2 linked regions of the Homo sapiens genome follow. The protein of the gene in region 1 purifies or fractionates together with the protein of each later gene. This does not show direct contact. Each region holds a gene or a part of one and is shown on either strand. Other genes may lie near its edges.

Region 1 (3,826 bases):
CTACGAGGGTCCTGGTGCCTGATACAGACCTTCAGGGTGATTCTCTTCAGGGCAGATAAGGTCTCAAGCCCACGATGGCAAAGAACTAGCAATGAGAACAATGCAGAAAGCTGGGCCCTCACAGGATTGACCAGTTTTTGAAATAGGGTCTAAATAATTTGCTACTGACTTAGTTGGAAGGAAGCTGGCTGAGTGCTTCAGGCCACAGGTCAAAAAACAACAGCCCAAGAGAAATCTGAATCCCCACCTCACATCATATCCATGTGTGAGATTCAATACTACCGATGTGATATGGGAATCCCAAATAGAAAGATTAACATGAAAACTAGACTAAAAGTGAGAACCCATTGGATCCCAGCAGAGACAAAACTAAACCCACAGGCTGGCATGCAAGACTCCCTCAAGAGTAAGTGTAAAACAAAGATGTTTTCAGACATACAAAGGGTGAAATGTAGTACACCTCTCAAGGATCCTCAGTGAAAGGGCTACTCAGAGACATACTTCAGCAAGAAGGAAAATGAACCAAGAAAGGAGGTATGAGATACAGGAAGCATGGTGAGAAAATTATTAAGAAATATTGACAGTAAAGATTTCTGTAATAATGACAATTTTTGAGGGGTTAAAAATCAGAAAGGACTAAATATTACTCAACAGTTATATGGTAGATGGAAAAGGATAGTTCAAAGTTAAAGCATTCTACAGTGATTTTGTTTTGGAGGAGGTATATGTTTTTTAAGCTAAGTACACAAGTTAAAAAAACATACAGGTAAACAGCAAGCAACAGAAATAGAAAAAATAGCTTCTATACTAGTAAAGTGAAAAAAAAATAAAGAAAACAGAAAGTGGGGCAAGGGTCAGTGGGTGTGAGGTGGGTGGCAGAACAAAGAATACGCAAGGAAAATGGAAAATACAAAATAAGATTGTAAAAATAAACCCAAATACAACAGTAATCATAGTACATGGAAACATTATATTTGACTACTAAAAGAAATTCTCTTAGATTTTTCTTTTTAAAAATAGCTGTGTACAAAAGCTCTACAGAAAGTATAATGAGAGGCTGAAAATAAAGAGATTGAGAAAGACATGCAAAGCAAATATTAACAAGACAAAAACCAGGGAAGGAGGGAATAGGGAGATGGTGAATGAGTATAGAGTTTCAGTTTTGCAAGATGAAAGCATCTTGGAGCTCTGTTTCACAACACTGTGAATATACTTAACACTGCTGATCTGCACTCTTAAAAATGGTTAAGACAGGAAATTCTGTTTTTTTGTTTTTGTTTTTGTTTTTTTATAAGCCACAGTTGAAAAAAAACCAAGTGAAACAAAATAAAATATAAGCTATGAAGCAATATTAGTACCACGCAAAACAGATGTAAAGCTCTGAAAAATATTAAGAACAGTGACAAAAGGAACCATTCAGTAAAAAGATACAACCTGAAACAAATGTGAACCTAACAACAAAACCTCCAAATATATAAAGCCAAAACTGACAGAAGTACTACAATAAATGTATAAAACCACTAATTTAGCAGGAGATTTTAATATATGTCTCAGAAACTGATAGATCAAGCAGATAAAAAAAGAATAAACACTTGAGAAAGAGGATACCTGAATGAGAATAAATATGTAAAAAGGTGCTCAACTTCATTAGTCATCCGGAAATTGCAAATTAAAACCAAATTCAGTGCCTTCATATACCCACCAGAATGGCTAACATGAAAACAACAGACAACAGCAAGTGTTGACAAAGATGTGGAGTAACTGGAACCCTCATATACGGCTGGCAAGGGCCATAATTTGTTAACCACTGCTTTGGAGACTATTGGCAGTATCTAATAAAGCTAAATATAAATGCATCCTACATCCAGCTCTTCTATTCTTAGGTGTATTCCCAACAGAAACGCACACCTAAATTCAAAAAAAAGACATTGCAGCCCTACCTGAAATAGCTAAAACCTTAAACAATCCAAATATCTGCCAATAGAGTGGATATAGTACTCTACAATCTATTCATTCATACAGTATATAAAGCATTATGTAGTATAAAGCAATGAGAATAGTATAAAGCAATGAGAAAGAACACACTACAACTATACTCAACAATGTGGATGAATTTCACAAATATTAAATGAAAAAAGCTAGAGGCTAAAGAGTTCATAGTATATGAGTCCATTTATATAATGTTCAAAACAGGTCAAACTAATTTTAGGGGCTGGAGGTCAGGCGTATGGTTGGCTTGTGAAACATAGTGACTGTAGGAGGTTCAGGGAGATGCTGATAAAATTCTGTTTCTTGATCTGGGTTTTGTTCACCTGGGTTTGTTCATACGGTGATGTTGTATCTAACCATGCACTTAGGATTTATATACTTTTCTGTATGTGTATTACCCTTCACTAAAATGTTTACAGAAAGAATATTAAGAGATGTATCAGCCATGTGTAGTATATGGACCCTTATTTGGTCCTGATTCGAACGAAGCATTGCAAAAACCTTTTATGAAATGATTGGGGAAATCTGAAGAATATTCAGATATTTGATAATATTATGAAATTACTGTTTGTATTTTCAGTGAAAAAACACTATTAAAAAGATGATATTATTATATTGTTAAAAGATTATTTATGATAAAGATATATGCATACACACGTAGCACATTACAGATAACAGAAAAGGGTTTCTAGGAGCTTTCTATTACCTCAGTGAGAGGAGGTGAAGGGGCTGACATGAAACAAGACTGGTCATGAGCTAGTTGTTGAAGCTGGGTGATGAGTGTGTAGATGTTTGCTAGCCTATTTTCTATATTTCTGAATATATTTTAAACTTTCATAATAAAAAGATGTGGATATGTGTGTATATATATATATATATCTGCATAAATATGAATATAAAAGATGAGTAAGATTTGTATAGCTAAAATTATAAAACTTTATCAAAGACAAAAAAAAAAAAAAGAGAGAGAGAGGACCTGAATAAAGAAATAAAGCAGACCTGAACAGAGAAATAACCTGTGTTCCCGGATGGGATGGTTCAATTAAAAAAATCTCAATTTTCCTTAACCTATAAATTCAATGCAATCCTAACCAAAGTCTAAAAACAATTTTTTGTGGAACTTGAAAACGGATCCTAAATTCATATGGAAGAGCAAAAACCCAAGAATAGCCAAAACAATTTTGAGAACTAGGATGGCAACTTGCCTTTCTTGTTACCAACTGCCGCAAGACACATTGAAAAACCAAAGTAATTAAAACAGTGTGATAGTGGCACAAAGACACATGGCCCAGTGGTATAAAATCAAGAACCCAGAAACAGATCCATGCATTTGTGAGAACTTCCTACAGCACAGAGTTGGCTTTATGATTCAATGGGTAAAGAACTTCATAGATAGTGTTGGGACAAATGATTCTCCAATAGGAAAAGAATAAAACTAGATCTCTATATGATATACAGAAGTTGATTTTAAATGGAAAGTAATTCGTAATGAAATAGCATATGTTTAAATATACAAATGTTCAGGCTGACTACACTAGAATACATAATGAAGTACAGTAGTCAGATGCTTGCACCTAAACTTAGAATCACCATGAATGCAAAAGCTTCAAATGCAGACTATGCAGGTGTGTTGTTCTGGCAACTCAAATACCACGAGCTGTGCTGCCTTCAGTTATGTGATTTGCTAGAGTGATGAACAACTCTTGTTAAAGTTCCAAACCACAAATAAGTATAATTTTCCTCTGATTTACATTAGAGTTGCATTCCTGGAAATTTTACTATATTAAACTGTGCCAAAAAATACATTATGTTTATACAAAAACCGGAGTTAGGCTCT
Region 2 (3,826 bases), on another chromosome or scaffold:
GGCTGAATGGGCTCTACCTGTGACTCACCGTTCCTCTCCTGGTAGGCAGCAACAATATGGGTGAGGTCGTAGTCATAGGCAAAGGGGCTGGTCCCGTTGATCACGGATATCTGGGACACGGGAGGAGGATGTGGTGTGAGCACCTGGGAGACTCCTCCCCTTTTCCTTCTACCCTTCTGCCCACCCAGGCTGGTCCCACAGAGCACCCTCTTGTTCTTGGTGGCCTACTGCAGTATCAATAATCTTTTCTTCAAAGATGAATAAAACAGGCTGCTGCCCACCCAGGCTGGTCCCACAGAGCACCCTCTTGTTCTTGGTGGCCTACTGCAGTATCAATAATCTTCTCTTCAAAGATGAATAAACTCTCTTGCAACAATTTAAGCCCATTTACTCTCAGTCTTTCTTTCTGTGGATGGAAATAAGGGGTCAGTGTCCATGTTTTACAGGTTTTAAAGCTATTTTTAAAATACCCCTCTTTATCTCAGCGGGAGAAAGAATTCCTTAAATTATTTTAACAGACCGTATTTTCGCCAGGTGTGGTGGCTCATGCCTACAATCCCAGTGACTTGGGAGGCTGAGGCAGGAGGACCACTTGAGGCCATGAGTTCAAGGCCGTAGTCAATGATGATCATGCCACTCACTACACTCCAGTTTAGGAAACAGAGAAAGACTTCATCTCTCAAAAAAAAATAAAAATAAAAAAAAATAAAAAGCCAGGCATGGAAGCTCACGCCTCTAATCCCAACACTTTGGGAAGCCCAGGCAGATGGATCACTTGAGACCAGGAGTTCGAGACCAGTCTGGCCAACATGGTGAAACCCCATCTCTACTACAAAGAAAACAAAAATTAGCCAGGCGTGGTGGCATATGGCTGTAATCCCAGCTATTCAGGAGGCTGAAATCAGAGGATCTCTTAAGCCTGGGAGACAGAGGTTGCAGTGAGCCGAGATCATGCCACTCCACTGTAGCCTGGGTGACAGAGCAAGACTCTGTCTCAAAAATAAAAATAAAATACAAATAAAAACCCCTACACAAAGACAAAAAAAAGAAACCATACTTCCAACTCCTTTGTCATTTTCTTGGTCTTTTCTGGGTGCTAAGTTCTTTATCACTTTTAAATATAGAGATATAGATAAAATGCAAACCATAAGCATATAATCCCTTAAAGGAGGAAATAATTGCTTGCTGTTAATGTAATCTGATATATAGACATTCAAACAAAAAGTGCCATATTCATTTCATATGTTGCAGCTTCCTATTCTTTACAACTTATATTGATTATAGTCAGAGCAACAGTAAAACCCACTATATATCTACAAGTCTGGGTTTATGGCTGTAATAACCGATAACATCCCTTTTTCATTTTCAGAAGTACCTCAGCTCAACTTCTATGGTCCCCATTGTGATAAAATAAAAGTGAGGAATGAGTGATTAGATGCATGAGTTCTGCACACAGACAGGCTCTGTTATCTTTCAAGATTTGAGCCTTTGGGAAAATTAATCACTTTAAGCCCCAGTTACGTCTTCTGCAAAATGAGTTCATTATTTAAACAAGTATCTCTGTGAGCTTACCATCTGCCAGGCAGTGTGCTAGGCACGGATGTGATAGTATTTGAGATGCCACTGCTGTCAAGGCTGAGGGAGACAGCAAATAAACACACAAACACATATCCTGAGTAGGCCAGGCGGCAGGAGGGAGAGTCTGGCTGAGGAATGGTGGAAGGAGGGGCTGCTACTGTAGAAGCAGGTCAGAGAAGGACTGGGCTTGGGGATATCTGAACAGGGACCTGAATGGCATGGTCCGATAAGCCACATGGATGCCTGGCAGAGGAAATGGCAAAAGCAAAAGCCCTGAGGTGGCAGCTGCTTCTTGGGTTTGAGGAACAGCAAAAAGGCCAGGGGGGCTGGAAGGGAGCAAGCGGGGGCAGTGATGGGACAAGTGGCTGGAGTGCGGGGAAAGGACAATGCAGGCAGCTCAGAGGTTGCCATGATGATTAAAGGAGATGATATAGGTAAACGCCTGCACTCAGGGGTGGCATATGTTATGAGTTCAGTAAACTATGGCTAGTAATATTTCTGAAATACTTTACATGAACATTTTACATCATCATTTTACAGTGTCCTTCGGAGTACATCCTGCGTGTGACCAAGCGTGTGTATGGAAGACACAATGTGTGTGTGTGCACCCACGTGGACCTAAAAGCAATAAGCAATTTAGTTCTTCGACAAACACAGATTTTGTTTCTCTTCCCTTCTAGGTGTAACTATGCGTGTACCTTCTCTGTAGTTTGAAAAAATTCATGGCAAGAATTCTACAGAGACCCTCTTTGGTGCCACCCACAAAGAAATGATATTTCTACTTTTCTTTTCTTTTTCTTTTTTTTTTTTTTTTTTTTTTTTGAGACAGAGTCTTGCTCTGTTGCCCAGGCTGGAGTGCAGTGGCGAGATCTCAGCTCACTGTAACCTCCACCTCCTGGGTTCAAGCAATTCTCCTGCCTCAGTCTCCCAAGTAGCTAGGATTACAGGCACGCACCACACGCCTGGCTAATTTTTTGTATTTTTAGTAGAGACAGGGTTTCACCAGGTTGGCCAGACTGGTTTCAAACTCCGGACCTCAAGTGATCCATCCGCACATCTCCGCCTCCCAAAGTGCTGGGATTACAGGTATGAGCCACTGCGCCTGGCCTGACATTTCTACTTTTCATTCCCCTCTTTAAAGAACTTAATGAACAGTAACACAGAGAAACAAAGGAGCTGGACAATGAGAAGCGCTCTTACGTTGTATCGGGCATCTAGGCCACCACAGCTCAGCGGCTGCTTCTGCTGCAGCCTCAGGTCTCCGTTCACGTATAACTGGGATCCCGGGACAGGAAAGGAGGACTGGAGAAACGCCATGCTCTGCATCACGAGGGTCGCCATCCTCTGAAATCATTAGAAGGACCAACAATACCAACCGCCATCAGATCTGAAGGGCTCTGGGTGCTAAGAGTCACCTGTCTTGGCTGAAACCTAAGAGGCCCTCACATACCTAGCGTAGCCATGCAGGAAACACTGCCTAGAACCTTCTGAGCTATTAATAGCCCATGTCAGTTAATATGACTAGTGAAAACCATTCCATTGGCCTAAGTTAAATCCCAAACTACATGGGGAAGAGGGCCCGCTAGAGTGCGGGTCTTCTAGAAATCAGAAGAAGGACTCTGGTCTACTAAAAAGACACAAGGGAGAGGACAGCCTCCCAGCGGACTGACTCACGTGTAATCGATAGGAGAAAGTCAGGATGAGCTGCACACCGAGAACGTGCTCCGTGGACTGCAGGGGAAGCTCCAGCTTAAAATGTAACATGTCCGTCTTCCCATCCTGGTTCCTGTCTTCTTCTCTAGTCTAGGAAACCCAAACAGGCCCAGCAGCCCTGGTCACTAATGAGTCTGGGAGGAATCCACATCACTTCTGTAAATACACAATGACCCACTGTCTTGCTGTACACAACAGGCATTATCTCCTCCACTAAAAGAGAAAAGCAGATAGATGTAAGTGCATTAATACTGGGGAGAGACACAAAGTGCATGGTCCCTGAACTTCATATCTGGGCCTTTCAAATGTTCACTGGCCAAAATAAATGGGCAATAACAAAAAACATCTGGATAGTATTTGTGCCTTTCAGTTGTCTCATGTGATCTTGCTTATTTTGCACTGATATTTTTTTCTTTTTTACAAATATGCCTGAATTTGTATGGAAATTTTAAGTAGCATGTCAGAATAGTCTTCTATGTCTCTAGAAGTCAACTTGTTAAAATAGAAAAACACCTAATCCTAATCATTATGCATT

What was found.
Region 2: the proteins of TMEM218 (region 1) and TMEM231 purify together in Homo sapiens (affinity purification with mass spectrometry; one large-scale study listed by BioGRID and IntAct). This does not show direct contact.

Annotation. Positions count from the first base shown.
Region 1 is NC_000011.10:125,104,949-125,108,774, forward strand, and holds part of TMEM218 (transmembrane protein 218), read right to left. Parts: intron 1-3,826. UniProt on the Homo sapiens protein: May be involved in ciliary biogenesis or function.
Region 2 is NC_000016.10:75,542,574-75,546,399, forward strand, and holds part of TMEM231 (transmembrane protein 231), read right to left. Parts: intron 3,505-3,826; exon of another isoform or gene 3,382-3,504; coding exon 3,253-3,381; intron 2,923-3,252; coding exon 2,779-2,922; intron 111-2,778; coding exon 29-110; intron 1-28. UniProt on the Homo sapiens protein: Transmembrane component of the tectonic-like complex, a complex localized at the transition zone of primary cilia and acting as a barrier that prevents diffusion of transmembrane proteins between the cilia and plasma membranes.